Linked DNA regions of Homo sapiens: region 1 is linked to region 2. Evidence: fine-mapped expression QTL. A gene starts in region 2. The other region holds a variant in brackets. All regions are shown on one strand. Distances are between the middles of the regions. Region 1 overlaps SCN11A (sodium voltage-gated channel alpha subunit 11). Region 2 holds the start of SCN11A (sodium voltage-gated channel alpha subunit 11).

Region 1 (12,775 bases), 94 kb before region 2:
ATATTTTGCCTGGGTTCTTAAGAAAGAGAAACTTGCTAAAAATAAATATAACACAAAATAAAACTGACAACCCCTGAAACTGTACACAGTAAAATTTGTTATAGATGATAAAAAAACAAACAAACAAACAAACAAAAAAACAAAAAAACACACACACACCTAAAGAACCACATCTTAAAAGTAACATTGGCCAGGCACAGTGGCTCATGTCTGTAATCCTAACACTGTGGGAGGCTAAGGCAGATGGATTACCTGAGGTCAGGAGTTTGAGACCAGCCTGGCCAACATGGTGAAACCCTGTCTCTACTAAAAATACAAAAATTGGCTGGGAATGGTGGCATGCACCTGTAATCCCAGCCACTCGGGAGGCTGAGCAGGAGAATCAGTTGAATCCAGGAGGCGGAGGTTGCAGTGAGCCAAGATTGTGCCACTGCCCTCCAGCCTGGGTAACCCAGCCAGACTCTGTCTCAAAAAAAGAAAAGAAAAGAAAAGTAACATTGAGGCCAGGTGCAGTGGCTTACACCCACTGGGAGGCCAAGGCAGACAGATTGCTTGATACCAGGGGTTTGAGACCAGCCTGGCCAACATGGTGAAAACCCATCTCTACTAAAAATGAAAAATTAGCTAGGTGTGGTGGCGTGTGCCTGTAATCCCACCTACTCAGGAGGCTGAGGCACAAGAATCGCTTGAACCAGGAGGTAGTGGTTGCAGTGAGCTGAGATCACTCTACTGCACTTGAGCTTGGGCCACAGAATGAGACTCTGTCCCAAAAAAAATGAAAGTAATATTGAAAACTGCAAAAATTGACCCAGGAAAAGGAAAACTGAATAAAAATTATGAACTCAAATAAATCTGACAAAATAAAACCACATGCAGTATGCAGTAAAATTTCCTTATTAACTGAAAAAACAATTAATGGAAGAATCAAGTATTCTTTAATAAGTAAACTCAGGAAAATTCGACTGTGAAAATCAAGGCTGCATCCACAAAATAGATAAAATTGATAAATTAATAGAAAATCAATATGGCACAAGCTGTAATTGGTAAAATTTGAAATGACTCAAACCCTTATGGTGAAATTTGTACAGAAATACTTAATTCTGAAAATTTTCTGTGCAGAAAATAGATTGCATTGCTAGAAAATTGATCAAAGAATTAAATTAGCTAAGTGCAATTATTTTCCAAGTCCTGCTAACAAATTTGAAGATAAAATTTTCAGATTCTGAATGACTCTTTACAAAAAAAATTACTTGAGTATATACTCCCAAACAATGAAAAGAGAATTCAGAAAAGCAGGATGCATGGAATCCAAGACATTATGTCCTTAACCGAAGAGTGCAATAAAATATTTCTGGTCAACCACACATCAATAGGCTTAAGAAGCAATTGCTCAACCACCATGGCACATGTATACCTATGTAACAAACCTGCACGTTCGGCACAAAAGCCCGGGTATGGTGTCTCATGCCTGTAATCTCAGCACTTTGGGAGGCTGAGGCAGGCAGATCAGGAGGTCAGGAGTTTGAGCCCACCCTGGCCAACATGGTGAAACTTCATCTTTACTAAAAATACAAAAATCAGCCAGGTGTGGTGGTGCGTGCCTGTAATCCCAGCTACCTGGGAGGCTGAGGCAGCAGAATCACTTGAACCCTGGAGGTGGAGGTTGCCATGAGCCAAGACTGAGCCATTGTACTCCAGCCTGGGTGACAGAGGGAGACTCCGTCTCAAAAAAAAAAGCAAAAACAAACAAACAAAAAGAAGCAATTGCCCTGACAGAAAAGTCAGAGAATCCTGGGAAAAATATTTAAACTATAAAGAAAATTTTATGTAACAAAAAATATGTTTCAGAAAATGGTTTTTCCAAATGTTAAAAGAAAGGTAATGAGAAATTCCATCAAAATAAGACGTACTTCAAAAGTAATGGTTTATAGACAAAGCCAACTAAATGATTTGAACCCTGATACCCTGCCATTTTGACAGGAACCTTGGTAAGGAACATCCTTCAGTATAACAGGAAAAATAAGATAATTCATTTGACCTTGACCTTGAATGTGCAGCAGATAGTAACATCAGGGTCCATTCCTTTACCTTTATTATGGGTCCAAATATAGTACAGTTCTTGGTTCCGGAAAATAGTAGCTACAAAATTATGATATAATTCAGGTTATCTATTAGTTTTTAATTTTCACAATCATCCTAAAGATAAAGCAGAATTAATTATAATTATAGAGTAGATTACAAATGCTATAAATGTTATAAAATTTTACTACAAGCTGAAGTCGGAGAGAAAAAGTGAAGGGAAGATTAAAGATACCAATTTTCTCACCTTAAACATTTAGAGAGTCAAGACACTCTATGAAAGGTTGGTCAAGCCATACAAAAATAAGTTTATACCTTAAAATTACACAGATAAGTACAAAACCAAATTTTAAATACAGATAACAAAAACTGGAAGAATCATGGGGAGCCCAGAAGGATTACCATCAATAAGCTAAATTCCTCATCTCCCATAGGGACAATTCAAAAACTTCTACTCAAACTGTATAAATCAAGAAATAGCAGTGTAAGCTAATTTAAAGTTAGAGAGACCCCCTACAAATATATACAATGATTATTTTGTCAATTGAAAATTAAATAGTCCCTGGGCATAGTAGTTCAAAGAAAAAAATAAAACTTAAAAAAAAATTAAAGAGAGAAAATGACCAGAATTAAACACTAAAATGGTTAAAAGTGGGACTGAGCATAGGTGAAAGTGGAGACATTTTACTTTTAACGTTATATCCTTCTCAACATTTTCTCCTTCTAAGCTATTTGAATTATGTGCTTGTGTTACTTTTATAGGTTGCAAAAGGATTGTGAAAATCCTTCAGGGGATGAAAACATCTTCTGATTCAAACTAGAGAGACAAGATATCAAGCACGACAGGCTCCCAATCCCCTTGGGCCATGAAGGAAACAAGCAGAATCTCAACTTGCATGCAGTCTTAAACTGGGAGGCCGGCCACATGCGGGTTACGACTTGACGTGGGGAATGACAGAGCCTGGGAGAGCAGTGAGGAGGCCCTGCAAGACCTTCATGAGCCCAGGGGCCAGTCTTGCAGGGTGGCCAGGGCTACCTGTCACAGGGAACTCTGCAACTGCTCTTCTGTAGACTGGCCCACTCCTGCCGAATAGACAGAAAGCAAACACTCACCTAGGAGAGAGGACTAAGGCCTCACTTTCCAAAGCTGCAAGCTTTATAGAAGCACTTAGGCCTGACCTCCCATGGTTCATTCATTCATGTGCTGGGCACTGGGGATGCAAAGGGATATAAAGCACCAGCCTTCCAGGGTCTTCCAATCTGTGGAGACCAGGTGAAGAAATGACGGAGGATGAAACCATGCCATGTGTACGTCTGCACCAGAGGCAATTGTTGGGTGCTGTGGGAGCCCTGAGTGGGGCATGGTGACGAGGAATCAGAAGTCATTTAGCTGGGAGGAGGGAGGGAGGTGGCCTGGACAATAGGCAACGTAGTGTGAAAGCACTGAGGGCTGCACACGGACTCCTGGCTCTTATTTATGAATTCGCCTGTAGTTATAAAAGTCACATAGCCTCACTGTGCCCTCCAGCTCACTCTCCATCCTTCCCCACTCTGCTCAGTGATGCAAAGCTGACCCACATGTAGCCCCCCATGGGATCTCTCACACTCTGGCTTATGGCTGGGTTTGGTTGGTGAGAGGTATCCAGCAAGTGACCCGGAATATGATGGGAGAGTGAGGGC[AG/A]GGATTTCTCTTCCAGCTTTCCCCTGATGGTGGCCATGGGCCACAGTGCCTGTGAGGTGCCCATCTACAGGGCTCGCACCTCCCTTCCCTTGCCTCTTCTGATGTGGGGTGTAATGGCACCTCACTCTCACCAACCTGAGAAATGCACCATCACCTGCTTCTGTTATGGTACTCTGCCCACACCTTTGTAAAAAGTCCCTTTAATAAAATATCCTCACAATGTCCAATTTGAGCTTGCCATCTGTTTCCTGCTGGGGCCCTGGCTGATAGAGTCATTCACTAAATACAATTTAGAAATCAGGAAAAGGAAATTATTACCCACAAGCCATAGCCATCTAATATGTACAAGTTTTAACATTTTAGTGTATCTCTTTGCAGTAGTCTTTTTGTCCATATATTTCATATGACTGTCATTGTCCTGTATAACAATTTTAAATGGTGACTTTTTCACTAAACCCTATAACAAGAACATTTTCATAAAGAAAGCTACCATTTCATAGTGTCTATGCTGTTCCAGGTGAAATTTGGAGTGTGTTAACTAACATACATTATCTCATTTAACCCTCAAAACAATTTTATGAGATATATATTATTCTTGGGGATATCTGAAAGAAATGTTCATCTAGAATGAAGGTGGATTATTTATGGCCTTCTCTTTAAGGTCAGAGGCTTTAACCTTATACCTTCCTTGCCTGGTGTTTCTAGCTTTCTCTTTTGGCAAAGAGCAAACTGATACTGTGATTCTCATACTTTATCCTAACCAGTAAGGGAAATCGCAAGATGTTTCCAACTGCTCACCTGGAACATTTCAGCATAGATCTGGTCCACACAATCTGGAATGCCAGAGGTCCACACTGAGGTTAATAAGAATTATGAATTATGGGCTAAACAAAGGGGCAAATGCTTTAAATGGATTATCTTTCAGAATTTCCCCCAGAAATCTACAAGGTGGGCATGATTACATCATCCCCATTTTGCAGAAGACATTAGGTCTTACAGAAATTGAGAAAACTTGCTTATGATCACATAAGTAAGTGCTGGAAAATCTCAAGCCGAAACAATTCCATTCCAGGCCTTATACTCTTAGCCACCATGCAATTCCTCCTACGTGCCTAGTTCTTCTTACTTAAAACTAAGATATCCCCAAGGAGATGGGAGAAAGGAGTCAAGAGGAGAAAGCCTCACAAGCTTCCAACTGGGCTGGTATGCGTCTATGGCAGCCTCACTGTGTGTGATGTGGCCTCCCAGGACCTCAACCCACTGCCACCTCCTCATTCACATGTCAGTCCTACGGGCATTCCACTGGCCTCACCATGACACTCTCATCCACCACCCAAGTCAGACAGCTTAATGGTAGACATGCCCTACAGAAAACCTCCTCATTCATTTTAGGTGTAACCTGAACAAGTTCTTAACTTTGGTGACACATAATCCATATTTATTAACGTAAGTTACAAAAAAAAGATATCTCTTTCCCTCTTCATAGATCCCATAAGAAAATCAGAAAGCAAACGAACATGATCAGAGTTTAATGAAATTGATCTCAATTCAAAGTCAATCCCAAGATTAGTTTGCTAGCTCTTCAGTAAAGAAATCATGCATGTCAATTTCTGATTAAATAAATTGGCCACGGGGAATTCAGAAAATATTTGGAGGATTTTTACCATCGCCTCAGTTGGAGACAAGATTTGAGATGACCTTTTCTAGCAAGGTCCAATTGCTGGCACAAAGTCCAGGGTTGCAAGCGCCTATTAGGCCAGCTGGCCATCTCCTGTCCCTGTGAGCCCATGACCTCTCAGTGTATTTGACAGCAGGGAGAACAACCCGATGGACTCCACCAGCTGAGCCATATATCTCGTACCCGCTCTCTGCTTCTAATTTGATCAGAAAATAATCACAAAAGGCCTGTACTCTACCCTGATGAGAAAAACAAACCAAGTTCCAGGTGGCAGGTCCCAGACTTGAAAGAACAGAACAGGCCTGCACCCGGCCCAGAGGACTTACCTGACTTCTTGGTAAGGTGGCTCCAGACAGCAATCCCAGCGATACTTCTTGAAGCTCTCCACAGAGCAAGTCTCTCAGCAGAGTTCGAGCTTCTGCTCCTGGCAGCTGCCTGGAGCCCTTCTGGGAGGAGCGGCTTGGAGGCTGGGTGGAGAGTGTGGAGGAAGGCAAATGGGAAGAAAGCCAAAGTGATTTTAAAGAATTGTGTAGGAAACCCTGTAACCGGAGAAGTGACTGAGAGGGTACTTACATTTATACTTTGGAAGCATCTGCCTTTAATCAGTGCTTAATCTAACTCTGCAGAAAGCATCATTAATAAAGAAACAGGTTGTTGTTTTTTTTTCTGTGGCCTGATCCAAGTGGGTGAGGGAATACAGAAAAGTCTGTGTGAAAAGCCAGGTTGTGCTTCCGCATTAAGCTTAAGCTGCAGGCCTCCTAACCCAGTGTTCTGGGGTCTCACCCCCCACAGGACCCACTGAGGCCCACACAACATGGAATTGCTTACAGGGTGTCCATTTGGCATCTCCTCCTTTCTCTTCTCTTGTGCCATTAACCTTGGGGTTCAGACCTAGAAAAATATTGATAACATGCATGCTTATGTGGTGGCCATAGGGATGCCAAGAGAACTTTTGGTCATCCAGACAACTCTGCAGCAGACTGTCACCAACCCAAAACTCCCCCAAGTAAGCTCTTAGTGTTTTTTTTGTTGTTTGTTTGTTTGCTTTTTATTCCTGGGGAAAATTTAAGTCTCCCTGGAAAGTATCACACCATAAGCTATTGTCACCTTCAGGAGACTAGCTGACAGTCAGCTGAGATAAAGGGTACAGGGTGAGTGTTTACAAGGAAGTAGGTGCTTACGGGAGTGCAGGATGGGAAACAGGAAATTTTGGTCCTGCCACAAGGGGCGCTGAATACTGGTTTCGGCTCCACCACTTCTCAGCTGCATGTTATTGGAAAGATCACTTAGTTTCCTGAGCCTTAGTTTTCTCCATGTTAAATATGATAATTCTTTCAAATCTTTTTACTGTTAAGAAGCAAATGTGATAATAGCTCTAAAAACACTCAGCAAACACTAAATCGAAGTATCTGTGGATTTTTAAGAGGAAAAATGCCTGGTTGCTTTTCTCCCCCTACTAAGCCAACACCCAGGTCCTCTGGAGAGGAATTGAAACCACAGACGTGGGATCAGCCCCTGGCCTGGCATGGAGCATATGGCTTGGGTTTTTGAAGCAGGAATCAAAAATTCTAAGCCCTTGCCTGGTTTCACAGTGACTCCCAGAATAAGAGAAGACCAAAGAATAAGAGAGGTACTTAGAGTTAATAAGCACTTTTTACATAAATGCAACGTGTGTGTTTGAAAAGGTAAGAGGACTCCGAATCCATTATCTTAAAGAGCCCTGGCCTTTTGAAATGTAGACTCTTTAAAAAAATTATTTTTCTGATAGGATTGTTTGGGTTTTTTTTGTTACTGATTTGTTTGAGTTCTTTGTAGATTCTGGATATTAGACCTTTGTCAAATGTATAGATGGTGAAGATTTTCTCCCACTCTGTGGGTTGTCTGTTTACTCTGCTGAAAAGCTCTTTAGTTTAATTAGGTCCCAGCTATTTATCTTTGTTTTTATTGCATTTGCTTTTGGGTTTTTGGTCATGAAATTCTTGCCTAAGCCAATGTCTAGAAGGGATTTTCCAACGTTGTCTTCTAGAATTTTTATAGTTTCAGGCCTTAGGTTTAAGTCTTTAATCCATCTTGAGTTGATTTTTGCATAAGGCAAGAGATGAGGATCAAGTTTCACTCTTCTATATGTGGCTTGCCAATTATCCCAGCACCATTTGTTGAAAAGGCTGTCCTTTCCCCACTTTATGTTTTTGTTTGCTTTGTTGAAGATCAGTTGGCTGTAAGTATTTGGGTTTATTTCTGGGCTCTCTATTCTGTTCCATAGGTATATGTGCTTATTTTTATAGCAGTACCACACTGTTTTGGTGACTATGGCCCTATAGTATAATTTGAAATCAGGTAGTGTGACGCCTCCAGATTTGTTGTTTTTTCTTAGTGTTGCTTTGGCTGTGTGGGCTCTTTTTTGGATCCATATGGATTTTAGAATTGTTTTTTCTAATTCTGTGAAGAATGATGGTGATATTTTGATGGGGATTGTGTTGAATTTGTAGATTGCTTTTGGCAGTATGGTCATTTTCACAATATTGATTCTACCCATCCATGAGCATGGGATGTGTTTCCATTTGTTTGTGTCATCTATGATTTCTTTCAATTCCATCAAAAAGTGGGCTAAGGGCTGGATGCGTTGGCTCACACCTGTAATCCTAGCACTTTGGGAGGCTGAGGCTGATGGATCACCTGAAGTCAGGAGTTCAAGACCTTGGCCAACATGACAAAACCCCATCTCTACAAAAAACACAAAAATTAGCTGGGCATGGTGGTGGGCGCCTATAATCCCAGCTACTCAGGAGGCTGAGGCAGAAGAATCACTTGAACCCAGGGAGCGGAGGTTGCAGTGAGCAGATATCATGCCACTTCACTCAAGCCTGGGCAAAAGAGTGAAACTCCGTCTAAAAATAAAAAATAAAATAATAATAATAATAATAATAGTGGGCTAAGGACATGAATAGACAATTCTCAAAAGATATACAAATGGCCAACAAACGTGAAAAAATGCTCAACATCACTAATGATCAGAAAAAAGCAAATCAAAACTACAATGTGATACAACCTTACTCCTGCAAGAATGGCCATAATTAAAAAATCAAAAAACAGTAGATGTTGGCGTGGATGCAGTGAACAGGGAATGCTTCTACACTGCTGGTGGGAATGTAAACTAGTACAGCCACTGTGGAAAACAGTGTGGAAATTCCTTAAAGAACTAAAAGTAGAACTACTATTTGATCTAGCAATCTCACTATTGAGTATCTACCCAGAGGAAAAGAAGTCTTTATTAAAAAAAAAAATAATCTGTACATCCATGTTTGTAGTAGCACAATTCACAACTGCAAAATCATGGAAACAACCTAAATGCCCATCAATCAATAAGTGGATAAAGAAACTATATCTATTTGATGGATATATATATATATATATATATATATATATATATGATGGAGATATATATATATATATATATATATGATGGAGATATATATATATATATATATGATGGAGATATATATATATATATGATGGAGATATATATATATGATGGAGATATATATATATATGATGGAGATACATATATATAATGGAACACTATGCAGACATAAAAAGGAATGAATTAACAGCTTTTGCAGTGACCTGGATAAGATTGGAGGCTATTATTCAAGTGAAGTAACTCAGGAATTGAAAACTGAACATCGTATGTTCTCACCGATATGTGGGAGTAAGCTATGAGGATGCAAAGGCATAAGAATGATACAATGACTTCGGGGAGTCGGGGGGAAGAGTGGGAGAGAGGCAAGGGATTAAAAAACTACTAATATGGTACAGTGTAGACTGCTCGGGTGATATGTGTACCAAAATCTCACAAATCACCACTTAAGAACTTACTCATGTAACCAAATACCACCTGTACCCCAATAACTTACAGAAAAATTTTAAAAAATTAAACAATTTTTTCTGAACAATTAAGTCACATTTAAGTCACATTCAGACTTCCTGAAGTTTCAAAGAATCTTTCTAGCTTCATCTTTAAGGTAAATGCAAATGATTCCAAGTGTAAAGACTTAAGTGACAAAGAATAATACACACACAGGTCACTTGAGTGGAGTTTGCATTCAGGACTTTTCTGTCCTGTGGGAAATTAAAACATGTGTCTGACAAATGGAGCAGAGCACCTGTGCTGGGTCCACATTGTAAGAGGATGTCAACAACAGACACGTTCAGAGGCGCCCCACATTTGCATCCTTGGAGCCACACAGCACATTGCCGTCCCTTGGTGATGGCAGGCAGCAAGACCCTGCCAGTCTCAGTTCTGCCGTCTGATGAGGAGTCTGGCTTCAGCATCAGTGGCCAGGTAAGGTGCATCAGCTTTAGCAGCAGCAACACCTCCCATCTGCTCATTTAGCAAAGATGACATTGAGCCGCCTCTACTGCAGAACACCATGCTGTATCCTGAAAACATTAAAACAAGACCTTAGGTCTTTAGGAGCATGCATCTGCTGCATGAGAAAGAACAGGTGTGCTGAGAAAGAACCATAAAAAAGCAAGAGATCATCAAGGAGCTGCAAGTAAGATACAGAGGCTTTCACAGAATGGGACAGGGAGCAACTCGTTCTGGTATGGCTTCCGAGAAGAGGTGAGATTTAAACTGAAGCATAGAGGATGACTAAGAACTCAACAGGTGGAGAAAGTGGGGATGGGCTTTCCATGAAAAGCAGGTGCAAGGGCACACAGGCTTGGAGGTACAAGCATGTGTAGACAACCTCTAGTGGTTTCATGGAGATGTGGTATTGCCAAAAGGAGGAGCATGGAAGAAGAGGAGGCAAAGTTGAAGGGATGCCTTGAATACCTCTTGCATACCACCAAGGAGTTCAAACCTAAATTTGTATTGATTCACACAGCAGGCATGATACTGGCACCGTCTCAAGCTCTCGATTACTTTAGGCATAACCACCAAGTCTTCTGTTTCCCTGATGTGGGCCACTGCTGACATCCATGCAAATAAGCAGATGTCAATGGACAACGTTCAGTGTAGGATGAGTGCCGCTTAGAAGAGTGAACAGCCAAAGTGAACAGAGCATTGTGTGGGGAAACTGAGAGTAAGCAAACCAAAAGAACTGGCTGTGACTGATTCTTCAGAGACAGCTCTGAGGAAGCACAGAATCCGTGGCTAGGAAGCACTTCCTCCAGGGTTCTAATGGAGACTCCTAGTAGATCCTTACAGAAAGCATACTCATTGAGAAGAGTTTCATGATCTTGTTCACTGCCGTGCCGTGATTAAAACAGTGCATGTCACTTAATAGGTGCTTAATAATTGTTTGTGAATAAATAAAATAACTGCTAACCTCCTCATAGTCCTTTCTGAGACCCAGCCCTGGCTCCTCAATCTTGTATGTCTGGTCCTGGGAAGGAGGCCCTGCCAGGCCCCTGTAAGACAACGTTTGTAAGGTCTGGTTTCTTCATTCCCATCTTTTGTTTCCAGCCAGCTTCGCCCAGTGCAAGCCCTTCTCACCTCTCATCTTGACCATCATGAAGGCCTTCACAATCGACAGTCTGCTCCAGTTTCCTCCTGGTAAGCTGTCCCTATCCTGACCACCCCTGTTCCAGCCACATCTTGCTCTTCTCTGTTCCCTGCCCTGACCAGACCTTGTGGCCACTCTGAGTCTTGCTAAAGTCGCAGTGCTCTCCTCTTGCCTTTCTTCTCACGCATTTCCCAATCTCTGAATTTCTGCTGCTTCTGTGAAGCCTTTCTTTTTCTTTTTTTTTCATATGACAAGGTGTTTATTGGAGTCTTAAGAATTGCAATTTGGAAGACACAGATTCGACTAGAAGTCAGCTTGTGTTCCAAAGAAAGGGAGGGGAGTATGCATTTTTAAAAGGAAGCCGAGGCCTGGGTATGGTGGTGCACACCTGCAATCCCAGCACTTCAGGAGGCTAAGGCAGGAGACTCATGGGAGCCCTGGAGGTGAAGGCTGCAGTGAGTTAGGATTGTGCCACTTTACACCACCTTAGGTGACAGAACAAGACCCTGTCCCTTAAAAAAAATTAAAAAAAAAAGAAGCTGAGGATGATTATGCAAGTTGTTTTGAAAAAATATATATCACTGGTAGAGGCAGCTGGCTTAGTACCTGAGATCATTGGTTGTTTCTGTTCAGAAGTTGCAGCGCTGGTGAAATTCAGCTGCTTTCCAGAACGTTGCCATCAAGGCTGTTTGGCCCAACCCAAAAATTCGAGGCAAGTTTCTGAGGGTTTTTGTTGTTGTTGTTTGCAAGGTTGCAGGTCGTCAGTCCTCCCTAGAATGGCTTCCTGACTTCACTTTAGAGATCTGAACCAGAGGGACATCATTTTGTGTATCAGTTTCACATAACAAAGGAAATTAACATTTGTTAATGTCATAGTTCATTATTATCATTATAGATCATTCATTCATTACAAAACAAATAAATTATGTAATTTGAGGTAGGAGTATTTTACAAAAAAAAGATGAAGCAAGGTAAGAGGAGAGAGTAGCAAGGATTGTACATTTTTATTGCTATACAATATTTTATCCATTTATGGGGTATATTTGATTTTGTTGCATGCATAGAATGTGTAGCAACCAAGTCAGGGTATCTGGGCCGGTATCCATCACCTTGAATATTTATTATTTGTATGTGTTGGGAACATTTCAAATTCTCTCTTCTAGCTGCTTTGAAATATAGAATACATTGTTGTTAACTACAGTCACCCTACTCTGCTGTTGAACATTAGAACTTATGCCTTCTACCTAACCGTATGTTTGTACCCACTGACCAATCTCTCTTCCTACCACTGCCCTCCACATCCTTCCCAGCCTCTGGTATCTATTATTCTCCTTGGCTTCTGTGAAGCCTTTCTTGACCATGTTTATGCAGTGCATTGCATACTTTCATGTTTCAAAATTATTTTAGACATTGCCTTTGTGTTTTGGTTTGGGTTCCCCCAGAAGCATTAGACAAGCACTCCAGTGTGGGAGTTTATTTGGAAAGTGATCTCAGGAAACAGGATTGAAGGAATGAGGAATGGAAAGCTGAGAAGGAGAAGCCAATAAAGGGTGTGCACTTGAGATGATTACTGATATGGCCAACTGTGGCTCAGCCTCTCTAGAGACTGTCTGAGGAACCACATAGAATGTACTTGAATATTAGGAGGCTGAAACATCTATCCTCTGGCTTACATTCCCTATTGTCAGAGATGCCATGGTAACCAGCCTCCAAGGCAGCCCAATGATCCGTATCTCCTGATTTTCACTTTCTTGTGTGGTTCTATCCCAAATTGAACAGGGCTGACGTGTGTAAACAATAGAATATTGGAGAAGTGACAATGTGTAA
Region 2 (12,635 bases):
ATTACAGCTAGGTAGAAGGAATAATTTTTGGTGTTCTATATCACTGTAGGATGACTATGATTAACAATAATTTATTCCATATTTTCAAATAGCTAAAAGAGTGGATATTGAATTTTCCCAAAGCAATTATTACAGATTGTATACAGGTATCAAAATATCACACTGTACCCCATATATATGTACAATTATTATGTGTCAATTAAAAAATACATCCACAAATTTATTGATACTTCATAAAAAAAGGAGTCATCTAATCCCCTCTCCTTAGACACTGATGGCCTTAGTAACTAAGTTCTAATGAATTGACTATGGCTTAAAGTGACACTGCATGACTTCCACTGTGAGTTTAGAAAAAGCATTATAGCTTTCAACCAGATTTTTCTTCTTCGGGATGCTCATCCTTGGAACCCAGTTAGCATATTGTGAGGAACCAAATAGTGCTGTGGAAAGATCATGAGAAGGTGTTCTAGCCACAGCTTTGGCTAAGGACTAGGCCAACACCAGTATCAGTCACCAGACATGTGAGAGAAGGGGTCTTCAGATGATTCCAGCCCCAATCTTTTAGCTGCCCCAGCTGATGTGAAGTGGATAGTGGAACAGAGACAATCTGTTCCCATGAAGCTCTGCATAAATTACAGATTTGTAAGTAAAGTAAGGGTTGTAATTGTTTTAAACCATTGCATTTTGCAGATGGTTAAACAGCAATAGATAAAAGGAACAGGAAAAAAGAGTGCTGAATATTGGACAGTAGTTCAGAGCATATACTGCATCCTACAGGACAGTATCAAAAAGGGTTATCTCCCAGAAGGCACCATAGCTAAGTCTTCAATATATCTTCAATAAGACAAGATACTTCTCAGTGATTGAGTACACAATTAGACCAATAAATTCCATGGGCAATAGCCCATTGCATTACTTCTTTCATTGCAGAGTGAATTTCTTGGTCAAAAGCAATATAGTGTTAGAGAAAATGATAGTGTCTAAAGCACTGAGTAATTCCCTAGATGGTGGTGTCAGCGGAAGTACAGTGAGCAGGGAAAGCAAATCTCAATCTAGAATAAACATATTTTAGAGAGGACAAATAAGAACTCCCTCAATGATGGGGAGGGCCAATGACCAATGGAATAGACTTGCCTACATGTGACTGGCTGACCCTCCCAGAGCATGGGGTATTGGTCACTGCTTCTGAACACCCAGCGGTGGCTTGGTGATCCCATGCATAGCTCCAATCCTGTTGCCATTGCCATTGCCATTTATTTCATGATTCTACTGAGCAGGCAGTGAGGCTGAGTTTCATCACAAAGCAGTTCATTTCATCCATATGATTCTTAAGATTTATTCTGAGAGGTCCATCACTATATCCCTTCTGGAGTCTTCCTTGTCACTAGTTCTCCAGTCTTGCTCTTTCCATGTCCTTCACAAACTGGCCAAAAAATTATCCTCTGACCCTGAATTGACCATTTCTCCTTTCAGCCAAACTGAACATCAAAACATACTGGTGAAAATTCTGCCCACTGAAAGAACTTCACTATTTCAATATTTTTCAGGTCCAAAGCAGGACTACAACATATCAATTTCTAGCAAGTACCAGTATATTGTCCAGAGCAACATACCTGTATTGTATTTTGCACATCATAGGTGCTCAATAGACACTTAAGCAATTTTTAAAATACAGACATATTATTTCCCTACCTGTATTTCAACAGCTTCCCATTGGTCTAAAAGATCCTGCTGGGTATGGCCTCTGCATACTCCTTTCACTTCTCTGTACTCTAAGCCTTGACTCTCAGTTCCTGTAATGTTCCATGCTCTCTCCTGCTACAAGACCTTTGCTCAGACTGTTCCCTCTCCTTGCCTAGTTAACTCTTGACTCAAGATACTTCCTGTCTTACAATCATCTTTCTTCATAGTACTTATCTCTGTATTAATTCCTGTCTCATCCTGGGACTCTAAGTTCTATGACTATGTGCACTCACCACTGATTCCCCAACACCTAATATAGTGCCTGGCATATATGATATGCTAAATAATATTTTGTTAAATGAATGAATACATGAATCAGTGAATGAATAAGCCTGTAATGATGCAGTAATTTACCTATAAGTTATCACTGCCAGTTTTGCTTAAGAAGCTTTCTGCCATCACAATTTTTACTCATCTAATTCACATTTCTTTATTAATTTAAGAAGTATTTGTCAAGACAACTTTTCTAAGCATTACTTATATACTAGCACTATGCAACAGAAATTTGTGACCACATATGTAATTTTAAATATTCTAATATCCATGACAAAATTAATAAATTTTATTTAGCCTAATATACCCCCAAACATCATTTCAACATGAAATCAATACAAAAAATTATTAATGAGATATTTTACATTCTTTTCTTCAAACTAGTCTTTGAAATTTGGGGGTAGTTTACAATTACATATCTCAACTGGAACTAGCTATATTTCAAGTGCTCAAGAGCCACAAATGACTAGCAGATACATCATATGCTATATCCCACAGTGTAGTTCTATAGGATTCACTTTCACTAGAGAGGGTCTGATCACCCTCAGCTCTTATAATTAGTGGTCAGGAAAACCACCTTAAGTCAAACCTAACTGTTCCAGTATAAGAGATGATTTAAACTAGAATTGTCTCTGGGAACAATTTTAGCTGGTGTACCGTTTTCGCCTTCCTATAACATCTTTTTGTCTTGTTTTTTTTTTTTAAACTTTTAAGTTCAGGGGTACAAGTGCAGGTTTGTTATATAGGTAAACTTGTGTCACGGGTGTTTGTTGTACAGGCTATTTTGTCACCCAGGTATTAAGCCTAGTACCCATTAGTTATTTTTCCTGATCCTCGCCCTCCTCCCACCCTCCACCCTCCGAAAGGCCCCAGTGTGTGTTGTCCCCCTCTTTTGTGTCCATGTGTTCTCATCATTTAGCTCCCACTTATAAGTGAGAACGTGCGGTATTTGGTTTTCTGTTCCTTTGTTAGTTTGCTTAAGGATAAGGGCCTCCAGCTCCATCATGTCCCTACAAAGGACATGATCTCGTTCTTTTATGGCCCCACTTTTTATCCTTTTAATTTAAACGGATTCTTTGCTCCCCCTGAAGATGGAGGCCACCTCCTTTGCAAGGACTTCTATCTCTCCCCCTTTGAGGCCACGACATAATTCTCCGCATTTTTAGGTACTTAACAGTAAATCACTTGGTTCACTTGGTTCTCCTGCCTGCCTAGGAAAGGTCAGGAGATGGTCCAGCGCCATGTCTAGCACTGTTAATTCTTTCAGTGCTTTCGTTTTGCTTGGGCCTCTCGGGGAGGGCGCGGAAAAGAGCGCAAGCCAGGGTCTAGGACCACACAAGTGAATTCGTGTTGCTCCCTCAGCCCTGAAAAGTGGCTCTCTCCCCATCAGCATTATACTTGCACAGTGGTTTTGTTTTTAGGTGCATCTACCTCATCACATGGCTACCGGCCACACAGCAACTAACAGCACCGAGGAAACACAACAGCCTGTTTACCTTCAGCCCCGCCACTAACCCTTGGCCAAAGGGAAAGGGGCAGGACATCCTCCCGCTCTGAGCCACCTCCGGAAGTGACGTCGGAGTGTCAACATGCAAGATGGCGGCCCATCACCGGCAGAACACAGCAGGGCGGAGGAAAGTGCAGGTATGGAAGCCCGGTTCCTCGGTCTTCCGGACGCGGCCGGCAGCTCCGGGCCCACTCCAGCTAGAAGGTGCCCGGCGCCACGACCAGCTGGGGTAGCGGCATGGGGCGAACGGGGCGGGGCGCGGCCGGCCACGAGGGGTGGGGCCGCGGCGCTAACGGCTTGAGGAAGGGGCGGGGGTCGGCTTGCTTGGCCCTTGGGGCCCAGGCCCGGGACCCTCGTGGGCGGCATTCTGAGCCCGGGATTGCTTGTCGCCGCTCTTCTGTAGGAGTGGACTTGCGGGGTCGGGATAGGCTCGTTCCCCGCCCACTTGCCTCCCCCTTGCCCTGTCTTTCTTCGAAGCGCTCTGCCCTCGCTGCGTCGGAGCCGAGGCCTCCAGGGGTTTCCCAGGGGGGTGGGCGTTGGAGGAGTGAGCGGCTTGTGCGGGGGCGTGGCGAGGCGGCGGAGCGCCAACGGCCCTGCGGGGTTTCTGCTGAGGATTCCGCACTTGGGAGCCCCCAGCCCTCTCTTATGTGGGAGCTGTCCCCTGGGTAGGTTTAAGTGACATAAGAATGTGCGTGGGGAAATTATAATTTTAATTGTTTTGGTATTTAAGTTCCTCTTCACCATTTCTTCATCTTAAGTGTGCATCGCTGAATCTGTCTTTATTGTTTGTGTAATTTATTGTCCATGTGGTAAAGAGTTGTCTAATCTTACCGTGTGTGTCTTGTGCCTTATGCCTTTGTGAATTCACTTTTGTTTGCGGTTACGCTTAAGAGTTACTGCCACTTCGGGGAACATCACACACCGGGGCCTGTCGGGGGCTGGGGGCGCTAGGGGAGGGATAGCATTAGGAGAAATACCTAATGTAAATGACGAGTTGATGGGTACAGCAAACCAGCATGGCACACGTATACCTATGTAACAAACCTGCACGTTGTGCACATATATCCTAGAACTTAAAGTATAATAATAATATTAAAAAATAGTTATTGCCACTTAATATTTTCAGTGATGCAGGGAATAAAAGCCCTCTTACAGGTGTTTGCCTGCAGGTATATTGTATGTGGTAGTGGCAGTTTGGTGCATTTATTCATTAAACATTTACCTAGCACTTAGGGTGGCCCCCAAAGGGGAAAAGGGATTGAAAGGGTGTAGAAATAATTAACACCTAGGCTTTCTTTATAAAACACAGCATTATATGGAGTTCTGCGGGTTGAAATCAAGTGTCAGATAAAGGTAGTTAGATGAAGGGGTCCTTCAGTAAGGTAATCCCAGCAGAAGGTGGTAGGCCATAAAGTCTTCTGATTAGTTCACATCTTGGTTTTATTGATCTCACTGATCAGTACAGTGTCTTAAGCACTCACTGGATGTTTGTTGAAATGAGTGAAATTAATAAGTCTAAACTCACCCTATTAGGTGTTTTTCAGTGCATTAGTGATAGGATTTAAGTATCACCAGCATCCAAGGCAGGTAGTGAGAATGTCTCCTTGGGACTGAAATATAACTCAAAAAGTAACCCGATTGTATTATAGACTCTATGGTGGTGTACATCTTAGGAGAGTAAGGGTAGTTAATCAGGCCTTTCAGTTTATTGCATTAAGACTTAAAACTCCTATTACTGCAGTGTGTTCCCTGCTTGCTTCCTTCCCAGGCCTGCCCACTCCCAAAATGCATGCAATAAAGTATATATATTTTAAAAAGACTTACAAGGCAATTGTACTAGTATGGGATGGAGAAAATGTAAATTAACTGCAGCAGGTTTGGAAAAACAGTGTTCCAATAGGCTGAATGTGAGCCAGTGCACGTAGAATGAGGCAGGTGATAGATAATTCCACTTTTCACTGGTCAAAGTACAAAATTAGAGTTTGGTGTTCAGCACTTAGGACCTTGTTCTTCATAGGTAGCAATCAGATTGGTGAACTGACTTGAAATTATTTCCTATGAAGAACTTTTGAAAGAGCTGTCTTAGATTAACCTGCTGAAGAGAAGATTCAGGGAACTTTCGGAATTTGTCCCTAAGGTATAGAAGCAGCCTGAGAAGCCACAGGGATTGATTTCATCTGAACCATCATTGTCTATGAGGTGTTTTTTAAACTAATGCGTGTTCATTGTAAAAATCCCAACAAACAAAAACATAAATTAGAGTTGCCCTCCATGCTTCCAAGAAAGCTACTGCGGGCAATGTCATGTTTTAATCCTAGACCAGAGTTTATCAACCTGAACATTCTTGAAATTTCATCTGGATAATTCTTCGCTGTGTCTGAGGGAGGGAGCTGTCCTATGCATCACAGGTTCTTTGGCATCATCCCTGGCTTCTACCAACTAGATGTAGTAGCATCTCCCCAGTTGTGACAACTAAAAATGTCTCCAGACATTTTCAAATGTCCCCTCAAGGGCAAAATTGCCGCTGGTTGAGAACCGCTGTTCTATACCTCTTGCTGTTTGTGTACCTGACTTAACATATTTTTTTGCTATAAATGGAGCCATAGTATTCACTGTTTTGTGTCTTGCTTTGTCAAATTTTTAAATAAACATTCCCTTTAGCCCAGAATTCCTTATCTAAAAATATATTCTACAAAATTGCATATGCATGTATCTGTCCCTACTTATGCAAGGGTGTTGTGTGAAGCCATTCTTGAATTGCTATAAAGAAATACCTGAGACTGGCTCATTTATAAAGAAAAGAGGCATAATTGGCTCATAGTTCTGCAGGCTTTACAGGAAATATGGTGCTAGGATCTGCTCGTCTTCCAGGGAGGCCTCAAAGAGAGAGAGAGTCAAAAAAGCAAGTCAACATGGCATATTCCCATTTCCACAAAGGAAATATGCATTTTAAAAGTCAGGAAGGGTAATAGCAGTGATTATCCCTTTGGGAATAGATTGTGTGATTATAGATAAGACAGGACATGGGATATCTTTTAGTTTGAAATATGCACAACTTTGTATTTTTGAACTTTTTACCACATTATTTGCTCTTATACATCAAAAAGAAAACTTCTCATCTTGGAAAAAGCATACATGGGTACTTGGAGTAAATATACTTTGTCTCCTGACTGTCTCAGACCACGAGACAGTAGCCCTGAGCTCCTTGTCAAGTTGTAGGCCAAGACAAACCCTTGAGACTTAAAAATATTGCTAAATAATCAGTGGAGGCCAGGCGTGGTGGCTCATGCCTGTAATCCCAGCACTTTGGGAGGCCAAGGTGGGCAGATCACTTGAGGTCAGGAGTTCGAGACCAGCCTGGCCAACATGGCGAAATCCCGTCTCTACTAAAAATATAAAAATTGCCGGCATGGTGGCGCATGCCTGTAATCCCAGGTACTTGGGAGGCTGAGACAGGGGAATCGCTTGAACCCAGGAGGCGGAGGTTGCAGTGGGCCGAGATTGTACCAGTGCACTCCAGCCTGGGTGACAGAGCGAGACTCCATCTCAAAAATAAAATAAAATGATACTTAAAATCAGTGGAGAGGGGTCCAAACATACTGCATATTAATTGTAGACATAATTTTAAATGAGTCCATGTCCTACCATCTTCAACTTCTAGGAAAACTAGAGATACGAGGGAAGAGGGATGGATTTGTGACTGTCAGAAACATAATCAAATATGTGAATTCAGATACATGATGTAGCATTTTCTCTGGTAACCAGGATATCAAAGCAAGTCTTTTCCATCCTTAGCAGTCCCTTGGTGGTATGATTTTCCAGCAACCTGAGTCTGTTGATTGGCTCTCTGTGCCTCCATTTTTCCTCCTGTTATGGCCTCTTCCTTCAGTGCTTCACAGTGCTTGGGGAAAAAAAATACTTCGCTTAACTTGCTGCCACTTCTAGTTAAGCTCTTTCCCCAGCTAAATGCCAAGAGGACTTTTGTGCTCACTACCGTATCCTCAGCATTTAGAATAGTGCCAGGCAACAAGTGGGTGCCTAGTTAATATTCGTTGAAAGAATTAAATCCATTTTCCTCTATTTTTCTATAGCCAGACATTTTAAATTTTTTCTCTGTACTTTAATGGATGCAGATAACAAGTTTTTAAGGTGACATGTCTTGAAACATATCAGCATATATAGTTTTCGTTCTTTAATGACCACATAGAATGGATGTACCATAATTTGTCTAGCCATTTCCTTATTGAAGATATTGCTTTGATTTTTTTTCCATCATACTATAATTTGCTTTGAAAAAACCTCCAGTTATAAAATAGTAAAGGAAGTGTTACAAAAATAAATGAAAGGACAAAGATAGATAATACAGAATGCATAAAAGATGAGGGATCAGTTTGAAAGTTCCAGTATCTGACTCATTTGAGTTCAAGAAAGAGCAAAGAAAACAGAGATGATGATTAATAATGGATACAAGAAAATTTCCCGGAGCTTAAGTGCCGCAAATTTCTAGATCGAAGGGGCTTTCTAAATGCACAGAAAAACTAATGATAGAAAAAACAAACAAGAAATGTCACAACACCAAGGAAAAAGAGAAAATCCTGAAAGCTTAGGGAAGGAGATGACGAGGGAGTGGAGGAAAGAATGAAAATAGGATCCCTTTAAAGCTGTATGAAACAGAATGGCATTGAAATCAGTGGCAACATTGGATGCTAGAGGAACTTACAGCAATGCTTTCAAGAGCTGAGAGAATTGCTAAATCAAGTGTAAATGTGGAGGAAAGACCTTTTCAGGCATGCAAGGACTAAGTTGCCAACCCATGTGCCTTTTCTTATATTACTTTCTTAAGGTATTGGGGATGTATTTCAGCAAAACTATGGAGTGAACAAAGAAAGAAGGAGGCATTAGAATTCAGGAAACAATGGCTGTAACCCAGAAAAGCAGTAAAGGAAAACACCAAAGGTGACAGCTGTGCCAGCAGATCTAGAGGGCAGTCAGCCTAGATTGTAATGAGAAGAAGGAGGGTTTGGAGGGGGAAGCCTTCTGAGAAAATAAAGGGGTGGGGGTGAGTTCTGTGGTACAGCAATTAAAATTGAAATTAAAGTGGAGAAAACCATTGAAGAAGGAAAAATTAAAACTCTAGGGAAAACAAAAAGCTCTTTGAGGAAGGAAATGTATTCATAATATAGTACTTAGTAGATAGCCTTACAGTCACAACAATATAGCACGGATTATTTGTTCAATTAAAAATAGGGATGTATCTATATTAGAAGAGTAGAGGGAGGAGATATTGAGGGTAGTTTCAGAACTACATCCTAATCTACAGTAGCATGAGTAAATCGATAATGTCTAAAATGGATGAGCCAAAAAGTTATAGGATAAGCACAATATTTAGAGAAATGCAGTTAACTATCCAGTAGCAACAACTGAGTTGCAATTAGTTACCTTTAGGGATGAAGACTAGGTGTGGGAGTCTTATCCAGACAGTAGAGAGACTGTTTTTCATTACAGTCATTACTATTTGATTTTCTAAATACAAGCAGGAATTACTTGGATAACAAATGATCAAATTTTAAAAACTAAGTAATACATGTTGTTTGTAAAACATTCAGAACACATGAAAGAGACATGAATGAGTGAAAAATCACCATAATCCCATCATTCAGAAATAACTGCTGGTTATTTTATTTTATTTTTATTTTTATTTTTTTGAGACATTGTCTCACTCTGTCTTAAGGCTGGAGTGCAGTGGCACCGTCATGGCTCACTGCAACCTCTGCTTCCTGGGTTCAAGTGATTCTCCTGCCTCAGCCTCCTGACTAGCTGGGACTACAGGTGCGCACCACCACACCCGTCTAATTTTTGTATTTTTAGTAGAGACGGGGTTTCACCATGTTGGCCAGGATGGTCTTGATCTCCTGACCTCGTGATCTGCCCGCCTTGGCCTCCCAAAGCTGGGATTACAGGCATGAGCCACTGCGCCTGGCCCCTGGTTATTTTTATATATGTATAGTCTTCAAAACTTGTGTATTTGTTCTGAAATATTTAATATTTTGAAACATTTTTATAATAATGACTATTGTACATTGTTGTGTTGGACCACACATATTTCACTAAAAATATATCATGGCTTTCCGCCCATGTTTATCAGTCTAGACCTCCATCAACTCTTTCTTATTCTTTAGAAACAGGGCTCTCATGCTGTTGCCCAGGTTGTAGTACAGTGGTGCCATCATAGCTCACTGCAGCCTCAAGCTCCTGGGCTCAAGCAGTCTTCCCACCTCAGCCTCCTAAAGCACAGAGATTACAGGCATGAGCCACCACACCTGGCCTACATCAACATTTTAAGTGATTGAATAGTGTTGTGTTTTACAGATGTGCGTGCTAGAATTTATCCAACTAGGATACTTCTAATTCTTTTGCATTTTAAAGCACACGTCTTTAGGAAATACCGTTGAAGAGGTTGGCCCAGACTGGTTTTAACAGTAATTACTTTCCACCTAGAATGAGAATTCTGACATTCAGGTTATTCTTTCACTCTTGCCTTAACCAGTCAGATAATCTCCCAGAAGTCTGGATATCAAGATTTAGATATGCTGCACAGTCTCAGTTAAAGGAAATGTGAGCTAGGTAAGCAGCCCTGGAACCCCAGAGAAAGAGAGATTGAGAGAGGCTGAAGTTGACATTGAAGCTAGCTTGGTTCCTGGTGGCTTTGGAAAGCCAATTCATGCAATGATACGTATGTCTTTTATATGCCAGACACTATAATGGGGGCACAGGGGTGGAAGGAACAAGGCAGACAAGTCCCTTGCCTTCTTGGAGCTATTATTCTAATGGAGAAGATACACCAAAAAATATAAATGTGGCTGGGCGCGGTGGCTCACACCTGTAATCCCAGCATTTTGGGAGGCCAAGGTGGGTGGATCAGAAGGTCAGGAGTTTAAGACCAGCCTGGCCAAGATGGCGAAACCCTGTCTCTACTAAAAATACAAAAATTAGCTGGGCGCCATAGCAGGCACCTGTAATCTAAGCTACTCGGGAGCCTGAGTTGGGAGAATTGCTTGAACCTGGGCAGCAGAGGTTGCAGTGAGCCAAGATCGCACCACTGCACTCCAGCCTGGGCGATACAGTGAGACTCCGTCTCAAAAAAAAAAAAAAAAAAAAAATACAGAATGTGGTAAGAACTGTTAAATAAGTAATGTAAGATAGATAGGGTCATAACCCTGAGGAGAATGAGATCAGAAAGGCCTTTCCAAGGAGACCTTTCTCCTAAGATCTGAAGAGTAAGGGTGAGTTAGACAAGATGAAAGCTGGAGAAAGAGTATTCCTATAGGGATTCGAGGGGTGGTGAATCTTCATGACACTGGCAACAGTAAATGAGAAGGTACTGGGATGGGAAAGAGCTTGATGTGTTTACGGTAACAGAAAGGAGTTTGGAATGACTGTCATAAAAGAAGCTGGGGGCAGTCAGTTTGAAATGAGTGGGGGATGCAGGGTCAGAACTAAGCATTTGAGGAGTTTGAACTTTAAATTTTGTGAAAAGCCATTGGAAAGTTTCAGCAGAGAAGTGTCATGATTTGATTTTTTAAATGCCTCTTATAAATGATGACTGTATTTCCTGACCTTGGGCTCTGTTAAGATATCCTTGTGTTGAAGTCTCCTTTAAAAAACAAACAAACAAACAAAAGCTGGTTTGAGTAGATCTCAGTTACAGTTAATTGCATCCAAAAGACTGGGTTAAAACAACATCCTTGTAGCTATTTGTGTCTGCAGCCCTGGCCCTTTTTAAAGGACAAATTTCTGGAAATTGAATTTTAAAGAACATTTCAAAGAGTTTAAAACTTTTGTCAGAAAGTGTTTATTTATCCTCAGGGGAAACAAAAATGGCAGTTATTTTAAAAAATTCTTGTATTATAGGTAAAATAATCTCATATTAATTTTGTCTTTGATTATTTATGGGGTTTTTGGCCATTTCTTTTTTAAAAAGTCCCTTTTTGTAACTGTCCCTCTTTCTGTTGGTAAATTTGACTTTTTCTTATTTTATAAGGAATCTTGTTAAGAGTAAACTTTCTTTCATATTTATTTCATTATTCTCTTAGTCTTGCTCGTGTTACTTTTTGACATTCAGAAGGTTTAAGAAAATAATAACATTGTGATAAAATTCACATACCATAAAGTGCACCCTTTCAAAGTGTACAATTCAGTGATTTTTTTGTATATTCGGAAAGTTGTTTATTGGTCACCTAACTCCAGAATGTTTAATTACTCTATGTTCATTAGCAATTACTCCCCGTTTTTCATTTTTCCCTCCTTCAATCTCCTGGCAATTACTAATCTACTTTCTGTGTGGATTTGTCTATCCTAGACATTATATATAAATAGAGTCATAAAATATGTGGCCTTTTGTAAAATATGTGGCTTCTTTCACTTAGCACATTTTCAAGGTTCATCCACGTTATAGCATGTGTCAGTACAGTGTGTGTGTGTGCATATATATATATATATATGCACACACACACATCACATTTTATTTGTTTTGTCCATTGATGGATATTTGGGTTGTTTCCACTTTTGTAACATTATTGTGAATGCCACAATGCTGTGAACATTCTTGTACATAGAAAAGGTTTTGACTTGTATTTGGCCAGATCACCATTGCTCTTTTCCTTCGTAAAGATTACCATCTTTCTTGGCATGTTGGAAGAGTTTTCTCTGGCAAGGGACTATGTAAATATTCACCTGTCTTTTAAAAATTATTTTTATGCTGGCCAGGTGCAGTGGCTCACGCCTGTAATCCCAGCACTTTGGGAGGCTGAGGCGGGTGGACCACTTGAAACCCAGCCTGGCCAACATGGTGAAACCACCATCTCTACTAAAAATGCAAAAATCAGCTGGGCACAGTGGCATATGCCTGTAATCCCAGCTACTCAGGAGGCTGAGGCACGAGAATTGCTTGAACCTGGGAGGTAGAGGATGTAGTAAGCCAAGATCGGGCCACTGCTTTCCAGCCTGGGTGACAGAGCAAGATTCTCTCAAAAAATAAAAACAAAAATTATTTTTATGGTTATTAAATTTCAGTCTTTAATTCATAGAAAAATTCGTTTTTGGTTTAAGATGT

The links. PIP is the estimated chance that this variant, and not a neighbour inherited with it, causes the effect.
Region 1: its variant is fine-mapped to the expression of SCN11A in hypothalamus (GTEx, PIP 0.98).

The regions. Positions count from the first base shown.
Region 1 is chr3:38,954,519-38,967,293 of GRCh38, forward strand. It overlaps SCN11A (sodium voltage-gated channel alpha subunit 11), which reads right to left. Exons shown (of 30, transcript NM_001349253.2): 3 at 5,765-5,905. Among named protein-coding and RNA genes, the nearest start is that of SCN11A, 91 kb to the right of the region's middle. The variant AG/A (reference allele first, on the strand shown) is at 3,760.
Region 2 is chr3:39,048,414-39,061,048 of GRCh38, forward strand. It overlaps SCN11A (sodium voltage-gated channel alpha subunit 11), which reads right to left and starts at 3,531. Exons shown (of 30, transcript NM_001349253.2): 1 at 3,448-3,531. It overlaps WDR48 (WD repeat domain 48), which reads left to right and starts at 3,603. Exons shown (of 19, transcript NM_020839.4): 1 at 3,603-3,660. The coding sequence starts at 3,613. RefSeq lists enhancers at 2,764-3,636, 3,307-3,396, 3,407-3,456, 3,477-3,666 and a silencer at 3,707-3,806.